Linked DNA regions of Homo sapiens: regions 2, 3, 4 and 5 are each linked to region 1. Evidence: fine-mapped expression QTL. A gene starts in region 1. Each other region holds a variant in brackets. All regions are shown on one strand. Distances are between the middles of the regions. Region 1 holds the start of JARID2 (jumonji and AT-rich interaction domain containing 2). Region 2 overlaps JARID2 (jumonji and AT-rich interaction domain containing 2). Region 3 has its middle 26 kb from the start of JARID2-DT. Region 4 overlaps JARID2 (jumonji and AT-rich interaction domain containing 2). Region 5 overlaps JARID2 (jumonji and AT-rich interaction domain containing 2).

Region 1 (5,000 bases):
AACCCACCCCACGCTGCTCTCCACCTCAACGAGGTCCGGAATGGGAGGCGGGGTGCGGTTCTCGTCCAAGTTCTACCCCATTTGCTTTGTGGCTGCATCCGAAACGGACGTGCCCCGGGAAGGCGTCCACGCTCCAAGACAAGGTTGCCTCAGTGCAGTTTCTACAGCCCGAGTTTAAACTAGTCCTTTGCATTCTACCCAGCCCTCTGCAATGCGGATGTATTTTAATTCTTAAATTCTTTATGGAACAGCTTTCTAAGTTGGGCTTGATTATTTAACCTTGCATTTCTTTCATAGTTGAAGTTGACGTGTCTAGATAAGGATCAGCTCTCTTGAAGAGGCATTCAGCTTTTCCATTAAATATATTTTTTTACAAAACCAGTGCCCCGAAGGTCATCTCTCATTACACACACCACAATGATCAAAAAGGGAAAATATTAACACCAATTTGTCTACCCAACTTAAATAAACTTTCCTCTTACGTTGCATTATTCCTAAGGTATGTTCATTTGGCCTTTTTTGAAAAAAAAAAAGAGTTATTTAATTTAAAGCATGCAGCTAATCACAGATCACTCGAGTGCATATTTGGTTAATCCCTCGGTCCCCCTTTCCTCCCTCCCCTCAAACTTAAAAAAAAAAAAAAGCCACCACACACAAAACAAAAACACTCCCCATGCCAATCAAAACGTAGCTGTACTATGCACAAAACAAATTTAACTATTCCAAGCCATTTAAATCTAGGAATAATCACCCAATTTCAGAAGCCCAGTTAACAGGGAGAAATTATTTGTAGTTACTTACATATGCATTCACGTACACACTTAAAAACATTAGCCATAGTGTGTGTCCTTTTCCCCTACAACTGGAAACCATGAATTTTTTAAACAAAACCAGCCTCATTATTAAAGTCAATCCCAACAAATGCATTCGCTGTAACATGATTCCCAACTGGTTTATGTTGCAAACCAGATAAGCCAAAACGACCACAGACATTAAATTTGATGTGCCAGTGCAAAGAGAAGATCGCCATAATCGGACCCTCGATCGCAACTTAAAGGGCTTCCAACACACATGCGTTACACGATTTTTCCAAATAACATTAATAATAATAACACAGGCTCATTTGCATGCAAAGTGCAATACGGGGCCAAATCCGCTTGAGAATGCAGTTTAGTTACATTACCGCAGCCACCCCCCACCTCAAGCTCCACCAAAATCCCTTGCCTTTCATCTAAAAGTAGATTATGGTTGTGTCATTCGAGGTCAATTTATTCACTTGAGGTATCTCTACACCAGTCTGTTTTTTCAACCAAACTAGGCAGACACCACTTTGCTTGAAAAGCCCTCTTTCAGAAAAAAAAGAAACAGCCTTATCGGACGCTGTGTTTAAAACCCTTCAGAGGCAGAATTATCTATAAACTTGACATTCACAGCCATTGCTTAAAACTGCAAGTCAAAGGATGTGTTGTTAGGAGCACTTACGTATTTCTTCTGAATGATATTCCTCTTGGGTCTTTCCTTGCTCATTCTGAGATCCAAATGCTGATTGCAAAAGGGGACAATTGCTTCATGAATTTAAAGCCGTCAGAAATTTGCAAAAAAATATCCTGGTGGTTTTTATTGTTGTTGGTGGTGGTTGATCTTGTAATCCGACTTTTCTTCCTCTTCCCCCAAAGCCAGATTCGCCTTGAAATAAATCCGAAATTGGGAAGGAAAAAAAAAGAGCCAAAGACGAACGAAGCAAACAAAAAAAAATTCACTTTAGTAAAACACTCATAATGGAAAATTTCCCCCGAAACACATACACACACACACAAAAAAAAACCGACGCCCTTCACTCCCCCCCCTTTTTCCTCCAAAAACTACATCAGCGAAACGTGAAGGTCCTTAGTGTCTGATCCGTAGTTACATCTTGGAAAAGAAAAGGGAAAGATAAATAAAAAATGTTGGAAGTCACGTTTGTGCTGCAGCAGCAGTGCGAGCAGAAGAGTCAACTCCAGCGGCGGCGGCGGCGGCGGCGGCAGCACCACAGCGAGGGCTCGCCGAGTCTCTTTTTTCCAAGCCCCCTAACCAATGAGAGAGAGGCTATCCAGCCCAACTTTAAATGGACTCTGCTTTTATACAAGTTAGGGCTCCTCGGATAATTCCCCGCCGGGCGCCAGCCGAAAACTCCCACCGCTCAGCCGCCAGGCGCCCGCTTAGCCTGGTGCCGACCGCCCCTGGCCCAGTCCAGGGCACCCCCGCAGCCTGGCCAACCAGACACCCGAGCGACCTCGACGAACCCCTCCCAGGCAAGCCCTCGGGCGTCGCTCCCACGCCGAGCCCAGGCGTGGAATTGAGAGAGGCTCCCTAGCTCAATGCATGGCACGCTCCGTCGCTCCACCTCACCCCCTTTCCCCTGCCTGCCGCTCACCCCACGGCCGCCCCACGCCAGCCCCCGCCACTGCCTTCGCGTCTACCTGCAGCCGGGCTGCTGGGTAGGAGTGCCCCAGGACGCCCGGCCCCGGGGAGAGCCGCCTATTCCCGGGGCACCTTAGAATGGTCCCCTTGATCTTCTGGAAGTTGTAGTCCCCCGACTACAAAATGGCTATGGCCACGGAAGCTGGGAACTACAATTCCCAGCCTGCCCCGCAAAGCCTGTCACTCAACTCCCCTCCCTCCTCCTCGCCCCCTCCCCCTCACTGGCCGTGCCAACAAACGCTTGGACGTGTCCCGCGTGCGACACTGCTAGAGGCTGGCTCGGGATTGGCCCGCGGAGCGTGTGGTCCGCGAGCGAGGAACTCCCCACGCCGGCCCTCCTCCGCCCCCCGGGCCCCGGCCCCCCTCCCCTGGCGGCCGCCAGCCCCCTCCCCGCGCGCCCCGCCCCCACCCGCGGCGCGAACCGCCTGTGGAATCGAGGAATCGCGCGCGTGCGGCCCGGAGCCGCGGGGGAGGGACGCGAGGCTTCCCCGGGGAAGGCCTCGGAGCGTGGCGGTGAGGGGGGCGGTGTCAGGGAGGGGTTGGAGCCCGTCCTAAGGAAAACTGGGCCACGCACCAAGAGGAATCCTCGGTGCGAACTAGTTGATCGGCGGCGCCTGCTGCTTGTGCCGTGCAGCCGGTGTCACCTCAGGACAGCGCCTCGCGTCTGTGTACAGAGCGTGCTGCGGGCGCCTAGGGTAGTCCGAGGTCACCCCTCTCCGCGCCCCGCAGTCGCGCACGCCCCCACGCGCGGGGTGGGCGGTGGCCGGGGGTCGCCGAGTGGAAAGGCCACGCCCCCCCACGCCCGGGCTCGGCACGCTGCCCCTGGGTCGCGAACGCGCCTCCGCTCGACCCGCTTGGAGGACGTCGCTGGTGGCCCAGGAGTGAAGCCCCGGCGGCTGCCTCCTGAGAAAAGATAGCCGTGTTTAAAGAGACTGAACGGGATCTTTGCTTTGCCGGGCGTATTTTGTGATAAAATACCACAAAATGTTGAGACAAAAATGAGTGGAATATGGAGACCGAGCCGCACAGACACGCAATTGTAAGGAAACATCTCGAACACCGAGTGCCAGGAATATCAACTGTCCGGGCCACGCAAGAGCCTGCTTTTTACCTGCCTCCAGCCCCCTGTCGTGCTGGTTTAATCGCTGAAACAAATGAAGTAGCAGGCCCTGGCATAGCGCTTTGGGCCTTCGCCTTATTAACAACTTTGTCAAGTCTCGCATCGCGATTCTGCCTTGTTAATTTCCTTGTTTTTCGCTGTGGTTTTGGAGAAGCAATGTTTTCCATGATCTCTCAGGCTAGCCTCGGAATAAAACGTGGCAGAAGCGCTCCCGCGAACACATACCCATATATTTTATTCTACCTATTCCCTAGAGTCTGCTAACTTCAAAAGTCTAGATACTCACACAGCTGTTTACTTGCAGCAGTATTTGAAGAGATAACCTTGGTGTCTAGAAAGGTCTCAGAAACTGGAGGTAAGAGACCTGGATTCAAATCGCGCCTTGGCCACTTCCCAAAAGGCAACCGAGAGCCTCTCTGAGCTTGTCAGTTTCCGCATCTGCAAATTAGTGGTGATCAAACCTGTGGGGATGATTATGTGATAAATAACAGTAACCTAGTTTAAAACTAGGCACGTTATTGGAAGCTTTCAGTAAACGAAATAAAAAGCCTTTTCGAGAGGGTATTTTCCTTATTATTTTTACCTTTTCAAAAAATCTGAAATGAAATAATTTTATCTAATGTTCACTTCACAATTGGAAAAATAAATGATCTTTTGTGCCCTGAATACTGCAAAACTTGTACGCTGGTGCCATTTCCTGGGAAGGATCCAATGGGGCAGACTACAGTAGGGCCACCCAAGGTGTTTTCTAAAAACTTTCTGATCATTAGGACTGGCATACTGGGAATCTCCACGTCTCCACGTTGTTAAGATTTTAACCAGCTTTCTGTAAGTTTAACGCAGATACCTCATTCCCTAGGCAAATATTAATGAACAAAGGTGAGTTTCTTTTCTGTTCCCCTAACTAGCCCTGGGGCCTGGACTTCTCAGTCCTGGGCTTGCGAACTCCCCTGCCAGGCTACCAGCTCCAGGTCACCTGGTGTGAAAAACTATTGTGTAAAGTTGAGGCCTCAGGGCAGAGGGGAAAGGAAGGAATTTGCTCATTTCCAAAAGATTTGAATAATATTAGTGTTGTTTTCCCTGAAAGAGAAAAAAGGTTGGCCTTCTTAGTGGTTGAAAGATTTTCCTGTTGTGAAAGTAACCTACTCCTAATGAACTTCCTTCCCCTACCATCTTGGCAAGACCATCCAAGGCTTTTCTTGCTCCTTCCTCCTCTTTTTCATTTTCTGTAAGTCAAATGCAGCTTTTCTTATGATGATTTTCACATCTCAAAGCCTTGACCTCTTCAATTGGAGGGGCAGGGATGAGAACATGTCTAGGTACATTGATTGTATTAGACTCTATGCCAGCACTGTCCTCATCCCTGAGGACACAGGAAGCTCACAGCTCAGTAAAAAAAAAAAAAAAAAAAAGGCAGAGT
Region 2 (5,000 bases), 140 kb before region 1:
GTGGTGTTCAGGAGATGTTCAATCACGGTAAATGCTGCTAAATGGGCAATTACACCCCAGAATAATGGAAATGTGGCTTGGGCAATCATTACTGACCTTGATAAGTGGCCCAACGTGAGGGGTTTAAAGGTGAATGGCAAAGGAAGGCTGGGGGATATTAATATGAATATAAATAGAAGGGCATGGAGACAAACCTTTTAGACATTTTCTTATGGGGGATTTTGCTATAAACTAAGAGAAAGATACAGCAGGCAGGAGATGCAAGAACAAGGGAGGCTTTACTTTATTATGGGAAAAATAAGAACATGTTTCTACAATGGTGGGAATGAACCAGTAAAGAGAGGTAAATGATGAAGGAGGGATAATTTCCAGTGTGATGTCATGGAGGGGGAGTTATTAATTTCATCCGCAAAGAAACTAGAGAGACCCTTATAGAAAGAGCTTCAGCTTAAAAAAAAAAAAAAATCCCAACCTGGGCATGATGATACATGCCAGTAGTCCCAGTGTCTCAGAAGGTGAGGTGGGAAGACTGCTTAAGCCCAGGGGTTTGAGGCCAGCCTGGGCAACATGCAAGACCCTGTTTCAAAGAAAAAAAAAAAAATTCTAGACTACAACAAATTTCCATCCATTTGCCTTCCCCACTTCTTTGAAACTGAACTCCTATAAAAACTGGCAAAAGCAAATAGGCTGTAGCAAACAGGCCCAACTAGAGCTCAGACTGCTCTCCCTCCCTTCTGTCTCCCTACACAGACCACCTCCTCCGCCCTATAGCCCTACACATACAGACTCCACTACCCAGGTGACACTACCTGAGTGCTGTGTCCCTCCTAAAGTCGTCCAGGATTGGATGGGAATGATGATGTAATCAGGGAAACAGAGCCCAGCTCACAGAACTGACAAAGGAGGCGGGCAGAGAGAAAGAGAGGGGCAGTGGGTGTCAAGCACAAAGTGACCCGAAAGAGGAGCACATTAACCTCCTCAGGCACCTCCATTCTTAACGCTCCAGGAAATGCGTGCAAGCAGCCATGCCTACTAGGAAGCGTGGCGCCTCACTGTCACTTAAATTGGATTTCTGGTTCCAATCAGGCTTCAGCATGATCCATTCCTTCCAGTTAAGTTTCTCATCAAGGCTCAAAATTCCTCATCTGTAAAATGATGAGTTTGACCTATATACCTCTAAAAAGACTCTTCCTGCTCTAGCAGTCCTTAATTTTGCACACCACTCCTTTGGCATCAGACCAGTACAAGTGACTTGGCCACGGAAACCGGCCATTGCAGCCATTTGTCCCACTAGATTATGACACCAACAGACCAGTCAAATATTTGCTGACCCCTGCCACCCCAAGGTCTTGCTCAGAAATCTCTCGCATCTTTCAAGACCCCTTTGCAAGGCTCATGGATATACAACGTTTCCTGTATCTTAGGACTGGGTCTCTGACATCATCTGCCTCCCTGCTAGCCTCCTGCACTCACCCATACACTCGTTTGGGGTTTTTGGTTCTGTTTTTTGAGAAAGTCTCACTCTGTTGCCTAGGCTGGAGTGCAGTGGTGCGATCTTGGCTCACCACAACCTCTGCCTCCTGGGTTCCAGCAATTCTCCTGCTTCAACCTCCTGAGTAGCTGGGAGTACAGGCGTGCGCCACCATGACTGGCTAATTTTTGTATTTTTAGTGGAGACGGGGTTTCACTATGTTGGCCAGGCTCATGATCCGCCCGCCTCGGCCTCCCAAAGTGCTGGGATTACAGGCGTGAGCCACAGTACCCAGCCCCATTTGGTTGTTAAAGCATTTATCCTACAGTATTTTATCCTGCTTCACAGATTTTAAGTTGCATCTATTTTTCTCATGTTAAAACATGCATCTCATAATTAAGCTGTCCCACATTCATCATTGGAAGCACTGTTTTGTTCTTGCTTACTGATACATAACATAATGGTGCATCACTCAATGACATCTTAGAAGGGATGAAATAAGGTATTAGGACTTGACCAAAGTAAGCAACTTGATCTCAGTTTTTATACCCACAATGCCTCCCACATAATAAAAACTCCAACACTTACAAAATGAAAATCTGAGAAATGCCC[C/T]ACCTACATCACTACATCAAAAAAGCAGCTGAAAGACAAAGAGCCCAAGCCTTCTCGCCTTTCCACAACAAATGTAGCTTCCTTTGTAAACAAAAAATAAGTTGTTTTCAACAACATTGAAGCCCTTCATTTCACCCAGCTTTCTTTCATGCAGAGTGTGTCCTCACATCAGGGGAAACAGGAGAGGGAAAGAAAAAAGTCTGGAGGCCAGGACACAGGAGTGTTAGAGAAAACTCAAGCTGCAACTGGTCTCCCTACAGCTTGCAGAGGAGGAGACTAGCACACAGACATCAACACTTCGGTAAAGCTGAAGCATAAGCCACTTTTTTTTTTTTTTTTTTTTTTGAGACAGGAGTCTCCCTCTGTCGCCCCAGCTGGATTGCAGTGGCACGATCTGGCTCACTGCAAGCTCCGCATCCCAGGTTCACGCCATTCTCCTGCCTCAGCCTACAGGCACCCGCCACCACGCCCGGCTAATTTTTTTTTTTTGTATTTTTAGTAGAGACAGGGTTTCACCATGTTAGCCAGGATGGTCTCAATCTCCTGACCTCGTGATCCACCCGCCTCGGCCCCCCAAAGTGCTGGGATTACAGGTGTGAGCCACCGCGCCCGGCCCATAAGCCACTGTCTTCAGAAGAAAATAATAATAATAAATAATAATAAATGATAATGATAAAGTAGGCACCATCTCTAGTACAGCTAGACCTGAAAGTTTCCAGCAAAAACAGAAGGGACAGGTGTTCCCCTTCGTAGAGGAAGGTCACTTTATACCCCAGACATTCATTTCAAATATGGCCCACAAATAAACTTACGTAAATCAGACCATGTGACCTGACATTTTTTTATTTTGATTCACAAATACGTTTTTATGACTTGTGTGAACATATTTTGTTAACAATGAATTCACAGTCGGGCCCACATTTCATTCCACACACATCAAGAATCTTTGGAAATGACTGAAAGATTCTGAAAGGAGTTCAAAATTATATTTCTTAAAGGGGGCTTGGGGGGTGTTGGCTACACAATGTCCCACATCTGCGCTTCCAATACTGGTCCTTGGCTACAAATTGGCAGCTGTTGCCAAAACATCCATGCACCATCCGTCCAGTGAGTTCCAGCCAGCCAGAACGACAACAGCATTAAAAACACAAAACTCTAAGTGAGGAAATGGAAACTAACGGATGCATCTGTGTGTCTGACTGAAGAGAGGAGGAAACCAATTCACAGTCTACATTTTTGATACCCTCTATCAATTCAATTACAAATCATAAATAAAGCCCAGAAACACAGTCAATAAATACTTACCATGCCTTCCAAGGTTCTTTTTCCCAATAAAAAATTCACTTACTGACGGCCAGGCACGGTGGCTCACGCTTGTAATCTCAGCACTTGGGGAAGCCGACGTGGGCAGATCACCTCAGGTCAGGAGTTTGAGACCAGCCTGGCCAACATGGTGAAACCCTCTCTCTACTAAAATATAAAAGTTAGCCAGGCATGGTGGCACATGCCTGTAATCCCAGCTACTCGGGAGACTGAGGTGGGAGAATCACTTGAACCCAGGAGGCTGAGGTTGCAGTGGGCAGAGATTGCGCCATTACACTCCAGCCTGGGCAACAGAGCAAGCAAGACTCCATCCCCTCACCCCCGGCCCCCGACCAAAAAAAAAAAAAATCCACTTACCTCCTTCCAAATAAATACCTACTTAAAAAAAGTAAAGTCTTCCTACAAATTCTTATTTTTGGAATGCTATCTTTATGAAAGGCTCCAAAATTACCTCTCCTTATCTAAGTGGTGGCTACAAGCTTGGGAGCTCTAATCCAGAAAGCATGGGAGGTCTGATCCAAAAGGCCTGGTCTTATATCCTCATGCTTCCACTTAATAGCTGGGTAGGCAAATTGCTAATCCACTCTTAGTATATAGTTTCCTCACCTATAAAATTGCTTGTTCTGAAGATTAAATGAGTTAAATACAGCTAAAGTACTAGAACAATAACTGGCAAATAGTGAGAACTCAAGGTAGGCTAGCCATCACAACTACTGCCCGGGGTAAGTTTAAGGAAATGAATCCAGGGTCCCTTAAATCTCATCAAGAGTGTTTTGCTGGCCAAAGGACTTGATCTAAGATGACATTTATAGGAAGCAAATGAAATTCAAATACAGTTAATAGCTTCCCTCTCTGACTGTGTAATTCTGTGTACTCATTATTTGTGTAGCATGTTATTATTTAAATGTCCCTAATTTTAGCCTCAGCAGGCCAAGGGCCCTCAAAGAGTGGCCAAGGTCTCAGCCTCTGCCAGTCCTTTCCAAAGCTTTTGTCAATTTATTACATCCATGAAAAGTGGCATTATCTACAACAAAAAGTAGACAGAAGGCTCACAATCAGCAAATCTTACCACTTCACGCTTAAGCCCAGCAATAACCAACAAGCTGTAACGATGGCATCAGTTGCTACACAGACAACTCATGAGGCTGTTCAAAACTCACATATCCTACCAATAGTAGGGCCAAAAAAAAAAAAATTCATTCCTTGTCACTGTAAAACCACAAAAACAAGACTGATAGCAAACATGGATTTTATGACATGAAAAACGACGTGTCTCCACTATCTTATGTCTGCTTAGGTTATTACTACTCACAGACCTACAGAACCAGGGCAGCTGAGCTCACTGCTCAGATACAAGCTGCAGTGTCCACACACTGTTCCCAGGCATCAGATACCCGACCCCCTTCACACAGATGAAGGGCAAAGGGCTGCTTGTTCATCACACCAGGATGCCAATGATTCAGGAGATGTCACATGTATTTTATTTTCAAATTAGATAAAAATTCTGTAAAATCCATTCTGCTGTTATTTTTAAATATTATGGTAAAAACAAATGATTTTTCCCAGGAAAGCCTCCAATCATCCATTTATATTT
Region 3 (5,000 bases), 26 kb after region 1:
TCTCCCTGACTGACCCTTTTTAAGCACAATAAATTTAACTTGGATTTCTTGGGGTCAAGCTAACCTCACCTAAAGAACTTGCTTAGCAGAGTTGAAGCATTGCTGAAAAATAACATTCATCTAGGAATAAAAATGACTTTGTTATGTAGGGATTTGACAGAACAAAGGGCAGCTGCTCTGAAATCAAGTAGGAACCCTGGGTTGAATTTGGTGGCTCACATTTGTAATCCTAGCACTTTGGGAGGCCAAGACAGGAGGATCGCTTAAGTCCAGGAATTCAAGACCAGCCTGGGCAATGTAGCAAAGCCCCATCTTTATATAAAATAATAATAATAATGAAAGTAGGAACACTGGTGTCCCTCTTGGCTCTTCCCTCCCCATATTCTCCCTAGCACCAACAGCCAATCAGTCACCTGATTCTTCTTATTTATTTTATTTTATTTATTTATTTTTTATTTTTTTATTTTTTTTTGAGACAGAGTCTCGCTTTGTCGCCCAGGCTGGAGTGCAGTGGTGGGATCTTGGCTCACTGCGAGCTCCACCTCCCGGGTGCACGCCATTCTCCTGCCTCAGCCTCCTGAGTAGCTGGGACTACAGGCACCTACCACCACGCCCGGCTAATTTTTTGTATTTTTATTAGAGATGGGGTTTCACCGTGTTAGCCAGGATGGTCTCAACCTTCTGACCTTGTGATCCGCCTGCCTCGGCCTCCCAAAGTGCTGGGATTACAGGCGTGAGCCACCACGCCCGGCGATTTTTCTTTTTATAAAGCACCTTTCAAACCCATCCACTTCTGTTTCTTTAACCTAGACCTTCATTAGCCTAGACTTTCAACTATTACTTGTCCCACTGCAACACCCTCCAAACTGGTCTTTCTGCCTCTTGCCTGGCTACAATCCATCCTCCCCAGGGAAAAGATTGGTCTTCCCACCATGCAATCCTAGCTAAGCACTTCGGTGGATCATCTGTGAGGACAGCCACCAACAAATTATTCTTTCTGTGAACAGGAACGGATGGAATCCATTTCCTCTCCCCCGCCTTTTTTTTTTAGAGTGGGGAGCTCTGGTGCAGGATCCCCTCCTCTTGAGTCTGGGTCTGTAAATTGCTTTTACCAACAGAGTGTGGTGAGGGTAATATTCTGGGACTTCTAAACCCAGGTGTTAAGAGCCCAGCTTCGCCAGGCATGGTGGCTCATGCTTGTAATCCCAGCACTTTGGGAGGCCCAGGTGGGTGGATCACTTGAGGTCAGGAGTTCAAAACCAGCCTGGCCAACATGGTAAAACCCCCCGTCTCTACTAAAAATACAAAAAAATTAGCTGTGCGTGGTGGTGGGCACCTGTAATCCCAGCTACTCAGGAGGCTGAGGCAGGAGAATCGCTTGAACCTGGAAGGCAGAGGTTGCAGTGAGCCGAGATGGCACCACTGCACTCCAGCCTGGGCAACAGAGCGAGACTCTATCTCAAAAAAAAAAAAAAAAAAAAAAAGAAGCCCAACTTCCTTTTCCTTCTCTTGTCCATCAGCTGCCATGTAAAGTCGTCTGATAGCCAGGTGTAGTGGTGCATACCTGTATGCTACTTGGAAGGCTAAAGCAGAAGGATTGCTTGAGCCTAGGAGTTTGAGGCTACAGTGAGCCAAGATCATGCCATTGCACTCTAGCCTGGGCAACAGAGCAAGACCCTGTCTCAAAAAAAAAAAAAAAAAGAGGCTCTGAGCCAGATTACTGGATGGTAAGAGATCAGGTGAAGATGCAGGGGACCAGCCAGCCTTCACACATTGCAGCCACCTAAGGCATCAGAGAAGTGAATGAAGTCATAGTGAACATTCTGCCAGTGACTTCAGATTCTCCAAGGCCTGTCAAGCCACTCCAGCGAGCACCATCTGGAGGAAGGAAGACCCATCTCTGTCAAGTGTTTAAACCACTAGATTTTGGCATCATTTTGACATGGTTTGTTACACAGCTATAGATAGCTGAAACATGCCCTAGTTTTTTTTTTTTTTTTTTTTAATTTAATTTTTTTTTTTGAGACAGAGTCTCAACTTCCCAGGCTGGAGTACAGTGGCGCAATCTCAGCTCACTGCAACTTCCGCCTCCCAGGTTCAAGCAATTCTCCTGTCTCAGCTTCTCGAGTAGCCAAAACTACAGGCATGAGCTACCATGCCCAGCTAATTTTTTGTTTTTGTTTTTGTTTTGAGAAGGAGTCTTGCTCTGTCACCCAGGCTGGAGTGCAGTTGCGCCATCTCAGCTCAC[C/T]GCAAGCTCCACCTCCTGGGTTACGCCATTCTCCTGCCTCAGCCTCTGGAGCAGCTGGGACTACAGGTGCCTGCCACCTCGCCCGGCTAATTTTTTGTATTTTTAGTAGAGACGGGGTTTCACCATGTTAGCCAGGATGTACTCGATCTCCTGACCTCATGATCCGCCCACCTTGGCCTCCCAAAGTGCTGGAATTACAGGCGTGAGCCACCGCGCCCGGCCTGTATTTTTAATAGAGACAGGGTATCTCCATGTTGGTCAGGCTGGTCTCGAACTCCTGACCTCAGATGATCACCCACCTCGGCCTCTGAAAGTGCTGAGATTACAGGCATGAGCCACCGCACCCAGCCTAACATGCCCTAGTCTTGTTTTTGTTTTTGTTTTTTGAGACGGAGTTTTGCTCTTGTCGCCCAGGGTGGAGTGCAATGGCGAGATCTCGGCTCACTGCAAACTCTGCCTCCTGGGTTCAAGTGATTCTCCAGCTTCAGTCTCCTGAGTAACTGGGATTACAGGAATGTGCCACCACGCCCAGCTAATTTTGTATTTTTAGTAGAGATTGGGTTTCACCATGTTGGTTAGGCCAGTTTCAGACTCCTGACCTCAAGTGATCCACCCACCTCAGCATCCCAAAGTGCTGGGATTACAGGCGTGAGAGCCACTGCGCCTGGCCAGCATGTGCTATTTAATATTTGATAAATGAATGACTAGCCAACTGAATGAAGGTTAGAACTATGGAATAGGCCAGGTGTGGTGGCTCACACCTGTGATCCAGCCCCCACCACCTGTGGTTCACCTGTCTTCAGCAGGCTTCCTTCCTCTGCAAGATTGTCGCCTACAGCAACCAGGGCTTACTCTGAAAGGGGAGAAAGCACTGCTCTCCATAATCATCCAACAGTTTGTACTTTCTTTCTTTCTTTTTTTTTCAAGGCGGAGTTTCACTGTTGTTGCCCAGGCTGGAGTACAACGGCGCGATCTCGGCTCACCGCAACCTCCGCTTCCCCGGTTCAAGCAATTTTCCTGCTTTAGCCTCCTGAGTAGCGGGATTACAGGCATGCACCACCGCACCCGGCTAATTTTGTATTTTTAGTAGAGTCAGGTTTCTCCATGTTGGTCAGGCTGGTTTCGAATTCCCGACCTCAGGTGATCCGCCCCCTCGGCCCCGCAAAGTGCTGGGATTACAGGCTTGAGCCACCGCACCAGGCCAGTTTGTACTTTGACAGTGATTGGCTCATCCCTGAACTACTCTAAGCAAATACTACGAGTTAACTGGTTTGGGTCTAGATTATTATCCATACATCACCCAATTACTGCGGCAGAGGAGTAGGTAACTTTAAACTGATTTATATATGCCAATTAAGGTCTATGCCTCAGAGCTGGGATAGGTTTATTCCTACTCAAGACTTAATGAGGGGCCTGGCACAGTGGCTCATGCCGGTAATCCCAGCACTTTGGGAGGCCCAAGGTGGGTGGATCATTTGAGGTCAGGCGTTCGAGACCGGCCTGGCCAACATAGGGAAACCCTGTCTCTACTAAAAATACAAAAATTAGCCAGGCGTGCTGGCAGGTGCCTATAATCCCTGCTACTTGGGAGGCTGAGGCTGGGAGAATTGCTTGAACCCGGGAGGTGGAGGTTGCCGTGAGCCGGAGATCCTGCCATTGCACTCCAGCCTGAGCGACAGAGTGAGACTGTCTCAAAAAAAACCCAAAAACCTATGGAATATTCGTTTTGGACTTGATCATTTTTTAAAATTTTTACTTATTTTTATCTTTATTTTTTCATGCTTGGACTGTTAGAGAAAGACTCATAATTTTTATTCTTCCCTTATATCATCCCTGATCTTGCCCAGCAGATGTTATCTTCTAAAAGCTTTGTTTCATATGCTCTGATTCTTAAATTTCTCCTATCTCAGCTGTCTCCAAAGGGACAATAATTGGTGTTCATGATGATATGACTTGGGATAAAATGAAACCTTGAAGTGATACATTGTCTGAGGTTATAGTTTTAACTTTGGAAATTCAGAAACCCAATTTATGAAAATCTATATCTGTAACTCTGAATTAACCCATATGTTAAAAACTCCCAAAGAACCCAAATATTTGTCAATGTGGGGAAGAAAAAAATCCCCTGATTTTGTAAGTGTTTTTACTTTCTGAAAGGGGATTCCATATCTCTTATTCATTCGCGTCTCATCACAGTTCTGAGAGATGAGTAGAAGAGGTGGTGGCACTGTATTTCTGTTTTACAGGTTTGAAAGCAAAGGTTAGCCAGGCATGGTGGCTCACACCTGTAATCCCAGCACTTTGGGAGGCGGAGGCGGGAGGATCACAAGGTCAGGAGATCCAGACCATCCTGGCTAACACAGTGAAACCCTGTCTCTACTAAAAATACAAAAATTAGCCGGGTGTGGTGGCGGGTGCCTGTAGTCCCAGCTACTCGGGAGGCTGAGGTAGGAGAATGGTGTGAACCTGGGAGGCAGAGCTTGCAGTGAGCTGAGATCTCGCCACTACACTCCAGCCTGGGTGACAGAGGGAGACTTCGTCTCAAAAAAAAAAAAGAAAGCAAAGGTTGTATGAGTGTCCAGGGTCATATAGCTGGTTAGTACTACAAGTCAAGTAGGATCCATTCCACTGATGACTGACTGACTAGTCTGCTACTTTTGCCCCATACAGTGGTGATAATAGTAAGAAGTTTCAATTTATTGAGTAACTGAAATTTGTACTTAAGATTTGTACGTTTCTTAAGTAATTTTTT
Region 4 (5,000 bases), 190 kb before region 1:
TATCTAAGTACATTCAGTTTTAAAAGCCTAGAAGAGCGAGTTAAAATGTTAATTTGCCTTTCTACTATCTCTCGATGGGATTCCCTATTTAGTTTTTAAAATATCATTTCAACAAAAACCCTAGCAGTCTCTCAATTTTAGATTACTCAACACCCAACTGCAAATTGCCAGAACTCTCCTGGCAATGGGCATGTTTGGAAAGGCAAAGGGAATGACCCTGTGAGGCGAGAATCCTGTTTTACTTCCTTTTTTTTTTTTCAAAATGCAAGAGAAATATAAGAAGAAATTGTATTCTACAATGCTATACAGCTTATTAAAAAATAAAAATCCAGGCCAGGCGTGGGGGATCACCTGAGGTCAGGAGTTTGAGACCAGCCTGACTAACATGGTCTCTACTAAAAATATAAAAATTAGCTGGGCGTGGTAGCAGGCGCCTGTAATCCCAGATACTCAGGAGGCTGAGGCAGGAGAATCACTTGAACCCAGGAGGTGGAGGTTGCAGTGAGCCGAGACCGTGCCATTGCACTCCAGGCTGGGCAACAAGAGCAAAACTCCATCTCAAAAATAAAATAAAATAAAATAAAAATAAATAAATAAAGAAAATCCAGTGGAATGCTTCTAAGATAGCTGCAGAAACTTCCCACCAGAAATATCATACCAGATGGAGTTGTGCGGTAGGTGAGGTCCTAACCATCCATTCAGCACACGACAGACCAAAGCACAAAGGCGGCACTCAGAGTGTCCTCTAAGTCCCAGAAGGACCAGAGTGGGCTCTGGCATCTTACATGTCCTCCCTCTCATGCAGTAAGTTCACTAACAGAAATTTTCTTCATTTAAAGGGTAACAAATAGAAAAGGGATCCCAGGCAATTTCCCCACCCACTGCAAATCTTATGAAGTAGCCAGCATGCACCAATAGATGGCAATAGCGAGTCTTTACACTCCAGCTGTGGGATCACCCCTAAGGGGAAAAAAAGGAATGCTAAATTATGACAAGCACTAGTATTAGCCAATTTTTAGGACCTGCACTAAAATCTGGTGCCAGTTAAGAACCCAGCCACTATTTACAGAAAGTAGGTCTATCAACGCTATTAGTAATACCATCTCACCCCTCCAACTCATTACACCCCAAAGTTCTTGTATGGAAAACATCTAGGAATATACAATCCAGCTATTTTAGATCCCAAGAAACATGGCTAGAGATAAAACACACAGCATCTAGCCTTTTTTGGTGAGTATCAGAAAACCTACATTTTCTGATTATCACATTTTCTGAGTATCAGAAAACCCACAACATCTAGCCTTTTTTGATAAGTATCAGAAAACCCACATTTTGGGGCTCTGACAGAAATTTATTTAGTTGCCTGGACCTTAATCATTTGTGATTTTCAAAGTATGGGGCATTACTTAAACTATCACCAACAAAAATGCGGAGTGAAGTCTGCTCTGTAAGAAAAGGATTCACTATAACTGACACATTGTCTCTGACAACATTTGTTAAAAATGCCTAAGATAAGGAAACACAATCATAATTTAAAAAATCTGCTAATAGCTAATGAACTTTAGGAAAACTAATTCTCCTCCACCTTCTGACTGTTTGAGCTCTCTGATGCTGAAACAACGGCACATTCTCCCACTTAAAAACCGGAGCTATTACAGACACAGTGTCTGAGCATCTATGTCACTGGCTGTAGTAACAGTTCTAGAAGACACATTAGTGGAATAAAAATTTAAATACAACCCAAAGAAACTGTGCCAATGGAAAGTGGGCAACAGGGCAAGGTGAGCAAATCAACTTCCTTTCTAACAATACCCAGAATATCCCTTAAGCAGCCTTAAATTTTTCCCAACATTCAACACTGCACATGGTACCATATTTCAGGCCACAAAACAGAAACCAAATGGCATCACTGAATCAAACCAAAGGGAGGGACCTGAGGGGCTGGGAGGCAGGATGCAAAGGGGTCAGCCCAAACCTTCCAACTCACAATATTCTACCTCGATTACAATCTTAATAACCATTCCATGACCTCAGACACCTCGCCTCAGTACAACATGAAAGTCCTCCCAGTTTTTATCAGCCAAGGACCAGTCCGCTGTTGCAAGCTGTGAATCCACCTGATGTCAAGAATGTGCACTAAATTGAAAGAGGTCACATATGTAGACAGCGGCAGTGGACAACAGATGAGCAGTGAGTATCTGCAGGACATACATGTTCATCTAATTGCGTACGGCTTAAATGAACCCTCAAAGGGTCGGAC[G/A]AGAATATCTTCTGACTACATCTCAAGTCAAAACGTTTCCAAGAAGGTAAAGTCATTCTCTCTGATTCACAAGGGGTCTTGATGTCAAGTATGTTATCTGTGTTTCAGGCACGGAACCAACAACACTCTGCTAAAGGTACAGCATTGCTGGTTTAACACATGTGCCTCAGAGTTCCTTTCCAGAGACAACATGCTTGCATTTGCTGTGACATTATAAAAGTACTCTATGGGTTTTTAAGGCTTTGAGCCAAGCCAGTAGCAGAAACTCCCAGGGGTGAGACTGGGAAGAATGAGGAAATCAAAACAAGCCCTTCTCCTCATCCAATGAAGCTGGCTTGTTACCCCTCTTCTTTAGCATTTTAACTCCATGACAATTTCTGATCCCCACTCAGTTTCCGGAAACATCCTGAGAAAAGAAGTCCAATCTCTTAAACAGGACTCAAGATAAAAACACCCAAGCTGTGTGTAATTCTGAAGGGCTAAAAGACAAAGACTTCCTGTTCAATTAAGTCCTTCATTAATCCCTCCTGCTTAAGCCCATTTTCCTTGTCTGTAGACAGGAAATGATAAAGCCACAAGGTCAGCCTCCTTCAGTGCAGCTTAAACCCTCCAAAGAAGGCTGCAGCCACATATCCATCGTAGGTTCCTCACAAAGCCTCACTATCTGTTCATTTTTTCTGGATGGCATTACAAAACAGAGGGAAGGGTGATCAAAAGTATAACCAGGAGTGAAAGAAACGGGAGAATAAATTGCACGACATCCTAATAAAACATAACAGCAGGGGTGCAAGTACAGGAGGAGGATAGAGATCCATGCAACAGGCTTATAAACCTCCAACAATGAAAGCAGCCAATGATAAGATTTTTCAGCTAAAAACTTCTTAAATGAGCAATGTCCAAAATCTTATCTTTTACCCCAACCTCAAACCTAGCTTCACTGAGTCCTCTTGCACCAGGAGTAATTAATGGTTGTGATGCTTCCTATGAGAGGCACTGTAGCTGGGTTTGCCTCATTCTCCCCTGTTCCACTGCCTGAACCAGAAAAAGCACCCCCCACACCTTTTTTTTTTTTTTTTTGAGACAGAGTCTTGCTCTGTCACCCAGGCTGGAGTGCAGTGGCGTGATCTCAGCTCACTAAAACCTCCCCCTTCCGGGTTGAAGCGATTCTCTTGCCTCAGCCTCCTGAGTAGCTGGAATTACAGGTACCCAACACCATGCCTGGCTAATTTTTCTATTTTTACTAGAGGCAGGGTTTCACCATGTTACCCAGGCTGGTGGTCTCTTACTCCTGACCTCAGGCAATCCGCCTGCTTTGGCCTCCCAAAGTGCTGGGATTACAGGTGTGAGCCACCGAGCATGGCCACAGTAAGGGATTTCAATGGAGCAGATAGAAGGATACTGTGGAGGGAAACTGCTTCCTAGCTCTTTTCAAGCTATGCTGCCCCCACCACAGGAAGGCAAGCCACCATTGAAGAGAAAGGATAACATTTGCCTAAAGGATCTTTAAAGCGGGGGCTGCCAGGAGGAACCACAATAACAAAGAAGTTGGAATTGTCAGAAAAATACTCACATTTTGTCCACATTGGTCAGAAACAATGACGTGCAGAGGAATCATGGAAATGAACTACATCCTTCTACGCTCTGCAATTCACAGATGAAAAAAGCTACGTACGTACATCTCCCTCACTGCTGACTTCAGCAGAATGTTATGCCAGCCAACTGGGCAAATGCAGAATCATGTTCATAAAGATGTGGGTGACAGGCACTGGGAGGGGGGATGCATAACTACCCTCTTTATAATGCAACTTTCCGATTCCGCCAGCCTCAACATGCCCTAATGGTCTCCCTTTGATCAAAGAGGCATCCATCTTTAACTGTGTCAATCCACTGCCAAACTCCACACTCCCAGCCATATATCAGTCCTGGGAAGGGTTGCTGAGGCTTCTCCTCCAGCAATTTGTAAATGAGAACATTTCCAGCTGGATACTTCAAGTTTCCTCCCCATCCCACCACCCCACAACCCATTTCCAAAATACCATCAAAAAGCAGCCATAGTAACTTCATACCCAGAACAGGCCCCAAGACATTAAACCTGTGTGGGTTTGGAAAACAATACTAACAGACACTGACAAAAATATTCTATCTTCTATCTATTCTGCTAAGGGCCCACTTACCTTTCCAAAAATTCACTTGTTCTTCTTAAGTGGCCTTTCTCCACCCTCTTCTAAGAATTTATTTGTCCTCCCAGAATCGCCCTTTTGCCCCCCACATCCCATTAGGATGGTAAATTCTTTCTTTTTTTTTTTGAGACAGAGTCTCACTCTGTTGCCAGGCTGGAGTCCAGTGGCGTGATCTCAGCTCACTGCAACCTCCGCCTCCCGGGTTCAAGCGATTCTAGGATGGTAAATTCTAACCTCCTCTTAGAGTCACATTTCTTTGTGAACTCAACTAAATCTGTTTTTTTTTTCCCTGTTGCTAATCTGTCTTTCATCCATTTAATTAGCAGGCTCCCCAAAACTGAACTTAAGAGGGTAGAGAAAAAGTTCCTCTTTTTAAAATACGTTTCTTCTATTTTTTTATGTCATACAACTTTAAAAGCAGAGAATGTTACACAAACTAGCACTGCAGATAGACAACCCTAGTAACTAACTAGGTTAAGGGAGGACTTCCACAATGTAAGCGTAAAGGACAGTGCATAAGGAGCTGAGGCCAAGGGTTCATGGTGTGATTCAGCTGGACA
Region 5 (5,000 bases), 260 kb before region 1:
GAACCCGCAGTGCCAAGAGGAGTGGGAAGACTCCACCAAGGATCAACCCCATGAGGGCCAAATTGTTCTGCCAGGAACAGAGGCTGCCGCCCAGAGGCCCTGAGCGGACGCACAGCAGAAGCGCGGAAGGCCCCTCCAAGGCTCTGCTGAAAAAGCAGCTTGTGCTGGAGGCAGAATCCCTCAGCTGACAAAGGCTGCTGCGGGCCAGCGGAGAAGCTATCAGCAGCTATGACCTGATGGAACTCGTGACCAGGGATCCCACAGGAGAGAAGCTGGAGAGACAGAAACTGGTGCGACATCTACACCCTGAGAGTCCTTGCCATATTAACACCTGCCAGGGCAGCAGCCTTCACTGAGGTTGCGACCTGGTCGCCTTCTCTCCACAGAACCACCTGCTGTCCCCTCTGCGCCTCTTCTTCGATGCCCCTCTGTTGCCCTGTTCCCAATAACTTCCAGAATGATTTGCTTGCTTTGATAAAACAGCTGAGTCAGTTTGGGAATCCGGAGTCAGCACCTTCTTTTACCTACCACACGAAATGTGGTGCGTTTTTCAGAGGGAATCCATCTAAGACCCTTGCTATTTCTTTCTTACTTGACCGGGCACATTTGTTGCTTGAGTCCAGAAATATCTCCTGAGCACCTATGGTGTACTAGGTCAAATCCTAGGGGCTGGAGACAGAGCAGTGCATGAAACACACAAAACCTCGAGGAGCTTCCATTCAGTCTGGGGAAGACACAGGCCTCAAACACACAAATATGGGATGGGAGGAGGTGCCAGGTGTCATGTAGAGTGGGGGAGGGTGGTCAGGGAAGGCTTCCCTGCGGAGCACTGGACACCGCAGCGTCCCCCTAGAAGTGATAGGGCCACAACAGGGAGCAGCAGATGCTTTCTGCCATTGGGTCCACAGTCGTAGTCGGCATGGAGACATTGGCTTGTGCCTTTCTCTCCTGCAGCAAAGGAACTAGATGGGGTTCTAACTACAGGAACGTACTTCCATGCAAATTCCAAGCCGCTCCTGATAGTCTGTTTCTTGTAAATATAAAAAAGGAGGGACTGAATTCTGCACCAAGGCAGAGTGCAATGAGTGGAGGTGAGGATGACACCAGCAGACCAAAGTCAGCAGCCAGGACACCGGTGCCACAGAGAGTTGCGTGCTCACGGTCCCTACCCGTGGGCACACGGCTGCTGGGGGCTTCGCCATGGCCACCACGCAGAGCTCCACTATATTTCCGTGATGAAATCTAGAAATACCCTTGACGGGGTGGATTTAAACAAATCCAAACCTCTTATTTGAATCAAACATACGCTCACAGAATTGGCCTCCTTCAGTAAAAAGTAAAAACGTTGACAGTTTCTCATTTCACCAGTTGGCTATTCAGTCACAGGATTCACTGAGTGGCTTTACTTGACAAAGGCTTCTCAGTAAAACATTCAGGAAACACCAAATAAAGTTCCTCAGAGCTTACAGTCTCTGGGTCACACTTGGCAGGCTGCATCCAGCAACCCCCACACCGCATCCCCACCAGGCAGCCTTGGGCAATGGGAGAGCAGACTCAGATAAAAGGGAGCCAAACCCTCTCAGGGTCTCAGGCCAGAAAAACTGGGTACCTCTTTCCAGAGAAGTGTGCAAGGACATGAGATGCAGCCTGAGGCGGGTCTGCAGGGCCTGGACTTAAAGTGAAGCAGCAACGCCAGGAGTCAAGTCAACCCTTCCTCCGTATTTCTAAGATGTGTGATGGTATCAGAAGCCCGCATTGCCTCAACTACAAGGCCAGGCCAGAGCCTGCAGTCAGGCAGCCGTGGGCACCTGAGGGTATGGTGGTGTTTAGTGATAACCAACAGCCAATTCCCAATGCTGCCGAAACCCACTAGCCACACACTCCCACCAGGCTCACGAGGGCTGGAGCAGAGAACGCTTCCCTTCCAGTGAATCCAGAACTGGGACCACAGAGGACAAGTCTGTGCCGGGAAACTCAGCAGAGACTTCAACTTAGCTGAGCTCGGCCAGCTGGGCCCCGGGTGCCCCGCTACCCACTGGCAGGCTGGAGAAGGGAGGAAACCCCAAGCCTTGCTTCAGAGCCAGGACAGCTGGGAGAGCTGCCAAGAGGAGAGCCACGGACTCTGCCTCCCCTGCTTCTTGGAGGGGCGAGTCTCCTCAGGATGAGTGTGCTGCCGGGAGACCTGGCGGAGACAGGGAAACGCTGCATGTTTCAGTTTGCTGGTTTCTCCCCAGCTCTTCCCTCCACAGCGTGTGAATGGTGAGATTCATTTTGATGGCTTTATCAGGGATAGCTCTCCACAGAGAGGACCTGGCAACGCTGGGCTGGCAGTGAGGTGAGCGGATAGAAAACAGAGAAAACAAGCGCACAGAGTCCACTGACGGTCCAGCCAGTGAGAAGTTCAGCTGGATCTGGGCAGCTGTCGAGCACCAGGATGAAACGGAACTGGAGAAGCAGGGGAAACGAAGCATGCAGCCCAGTTACTTATCCCTGGCATATGGAGATGTGTGCACGTGCATGCAACACGCACACGCAAGCCAGTTAATGAAAAGGAAACCCGAGGCCCTAGGCAGGCGGAATGGACTCGTGGTATCTTCGTGGAGTGGACTTCCCCTCCCTCACTGGGTCTCCTGCTGCCCCATCAACGCACCCACAAGGCCCTCACTAGGTTCCTCGATATTGGACTTCCCAGGCTCCACAACCAGGAGCCAGTACATTTCTGTTTATTATGAATTCCCCAGTCTGTAGTATTTCAGCAACACGAGAGGACTAATACAGCGCTATCACCCAGCACAGTGGCCCGCCCCCTC[A/CTTCA]TCACCCCAGGGAATCAGAGAACACACCGTCCAGTGCATAGCACGCTCCACTTCCTCTCTCATTCCTCCCGCACTCCTGCAGCTGGGAGTGGCTGCTCTGCGGAGGCCCCTACCTTATAGATGCACTTGTGGAAGTCATTGAGGACGCCTTTGTCCTCCTCCTCTTCCTTGACCACTTCTTTTTCCTGAGCGAAGAGTCGCCGCCGGCCAGTCTTCAACTGGGCCTGGCCCACCTCCTTGAGCTTGCTGCGGAAGCCGTTCCTGGGGGCCACGCCGTGGATGAGCCCATTCTTGGGCTCGAAGCGGGGCAGAGGGTGGAACTTGTGGTGGTCGTTCTCTGTGTGGCCTTCCAGCGGCCCCTTGCGCTTCTCCAGGATCTCCTTCTCCATCAGCACCTCCTTCTCCAGCCGCCGGTGCTCCTCTGGGGACAGGGAGTCGTAGGAGAGTAGGTACTGGCAGTAGGCCTCCTGCAGCTTGGCCAGCCGGTCCTGGGCAGTTCTGGGGATGCGCAGCATGTCTGCTAGTTTGTTCCATTTTTTGAGGTCAGTCACTTGCTGCATGCCGCCCATCTCATTAATCAGCCGGAAAAAGCAGGCCAGGTCGAGCTCACAGCCCCCTGGGACAGCGAAGGGGAAAAAAACGGGACAGTTAGTGAAAGAGACACGAACAAGATGTTCCTCATTCAACCTGTACTTCTTGAACTCCTACTATGAGCCAGGACTCTGACAGGCTCTGGGGTGAGAGTGGTGAACAGCAGACTCCCGGTCCACAGAGAGAAGGGCGTTACAAAATGATGGGTCATGACCACTTGCTACGAAGAGCAGGTGGAACGAGGGACTACCATTTTAGGTGGGGAGCGTCTGAGGAGGCAGCATTTAAGCTGGGGCTTGGCTGGAAAAGGATGCGAGCTGGCCAGACAGACATACAGGGAGGAACATCCCAGTGTACCATGTACTGGTACATGTGTTGTCACATGGAGGCGGGTGTCATGAGAAGACTAGCTCCCTGGTGAGGAGTGGGTAGGGGTCCTGGCTGCACCCACGGCCCAGCGTCACCTAGAATAGCTTTGACACATGCTTGTTACCAACTCCCAATTCCCCTTCTATAATTCCCAATGCCCACCCACTCACTCACTCAACTTCACCCATCCACCCACTCACTCACACAAAGGAAGTCTATTTTCCATCCTGCTGGATTTCCAGAGCAAAGAGCAACACCTGCGTGAGGACACAGGGCAGCACATCTATGCCTCGTCCCTCGCCCATCCAGACAGCGGGCTGCTTCTCAGTGCATAAGCTGGTGCTCAGTGCCCCTCCTGATCAGGCCACAGAGCAGCGCAAATGCACATCAAACCTGGGCAGGTTTTAACGCGCGCCCAGTGGCTTTTCTAGATGGGAATGGAGAAAGCAACCTCCCTCGGGCCAAATAAAGGAAGGGGGGTAGGGGAGATTTTCCAAAATAACCATCAACAAAATACTAAACAAAGTACAAATTAACAACGTTTTAAATCTTTAGAGTGTGGGGATATATTGTTTTTAAGTAATAAAAGGTAAAGTGTGCACGGATCCAGTCCAGGCAGGGTCGCTGCACATACCAAGCATGACAGGACCCACTAGGTGAAGCGTCTGAACCACCTCGGCAGACACAGCACACACAGAGAGCGAGTTCCCAGCACACCAGCAAGACCAGGGATGGGGACACAGCAGCCTGAATTCCACTCACACTAAATGGCAGGACAGTGGACTGATGTGGTTGTGGAGAACAGGGGAGTTGGGGTAACATCCATGAGGGAACTGTCCCCAGCCTCGACAGGAGGGACCTAAGAACTGAGACTCCACAACAAACTCCAGGTCTCACAGACTCCCAGAGTCACAGGTGGGACTCACGGTGGCTCTGGCTGACAATCGGGAGTTCTTCCTCCGAGGGCAGGTGGGTACTGTCTCAACTTACAGAGGTAGGCACCAAAACGAGTCCCCCAACCAAAACAAGTCCTCCACCGTCCGAGTGACTCAGAACACAGGTCACAGAAGGGAGGAAATCCACACTTTCATATTTCACTCTAAGTAGATTATAACGCAAGAGCACCTGAAAATCACACAGCGCTTGCAAGAATTCTTCATGGAATCCTCATCCGCTGCGATCACTCCCACTCAGGGCCTTGAGGCTGCTACGTGGCCGAGCCCCTTCCCC

Evidence for each region.
Region 2: its variant is fine-mapped to the expression of JARID2 in whole blood (TOPMed, PIP above 0.99).
Region 3: its variant is fine-mapped to the expression of JARID2 in whole blood (TOPMed, PIP above 0.99).
Region 4: its variant is fine-mapped to the expression of JARID2 in fibroblasts (GTEx, PIP 0.92).
Region 5: its variant is fine-mapped to the expression of JARID2 in subcutaneous fat (GTEx, PIP 0.99).

The regions. Positions count from the first base shown.
Region 1 is chr6:15,243,067-15,248,066 of GRCh38, reverse strand. JARID2 (jumonji and AT-rich interaction domain containing 2) reads right to left here and starts at 1,998. Exons shown (of 18, transcript NM_004973.4): 1 at 1,483-1,998. The coding sequence starts at 1,527. JARID2-DT (JARID2 divergent transcript) reads left to right here and starts at 2,693. Exons shown (of 1, transcript NR_187237.1): 1 at 2,693-4,144. JARID2-AS1 (JARID2 antisense RNA 1) reads left to right here. Exons shown (of 2, transcript NR_120502.1): 2 at 1-252. RefSeq lists enhancers at 1,921-2,020, 2,131-2,180, 3,370-3,883 and silencers at 2,791-3,050, 3,061-3,370.
Region 2 is chr6:15,378,770-15,383,769 of GRCh38, reverse strand. All of the region lies in intron 2 of JARID2 (jumonji and AT-rich interaction domain containing 2), which reads right to left. Among named protein-coding and RNA genes, the nearest start is that of JARID2-AS1, 130 kb to the right of the region's middle. The variant C/T (reference allele first, on the strand shown) is at 2,084.
Region 3 is chr6:15,216,909-15,221,908 of GRCh38, reverse strand. No RefSeq gene overlaps it. Among named protein-coding and RNA genes, the nearest start is that of JARID2-DT, 26 kb to the left of the region's middle. The variant C/T (reference allele first, on the strand shown) is at 2,249.
Region 4 is chr6:15,437,369-15,442,368 of GRCh38, reverse strand. All of the region lies in intron 3 of JARID2 (jumonji and AT-rich interaction domain containing 2), which reads right to left. Among named protein-coding and RNA genes, the nearest start is that of DTNBP1-AS1, 110 kb to the left of the region's middle. RefSeq lists an enhancer at 3,410-3,479. The variant G/A (reference allele first, on the strand shown) is at 2,261.
Region 5 is chr6:15,499,333-15,504,332 of GRCh38, reverse strand. It overlaps JARID2 (jumonji and AT-rich interaction domain containing 2), which reads right to left. Exons shown (of 18, transcript NM_004973.4): 8 at 2,924-3,426. Among named protein-coding and RNA genes, the nearest start is that of DTNBP1-AS1, 44 kb to the left of the region's middle. The variant A/CTTCA (reference allele first, on the strand shown) is at 2,811.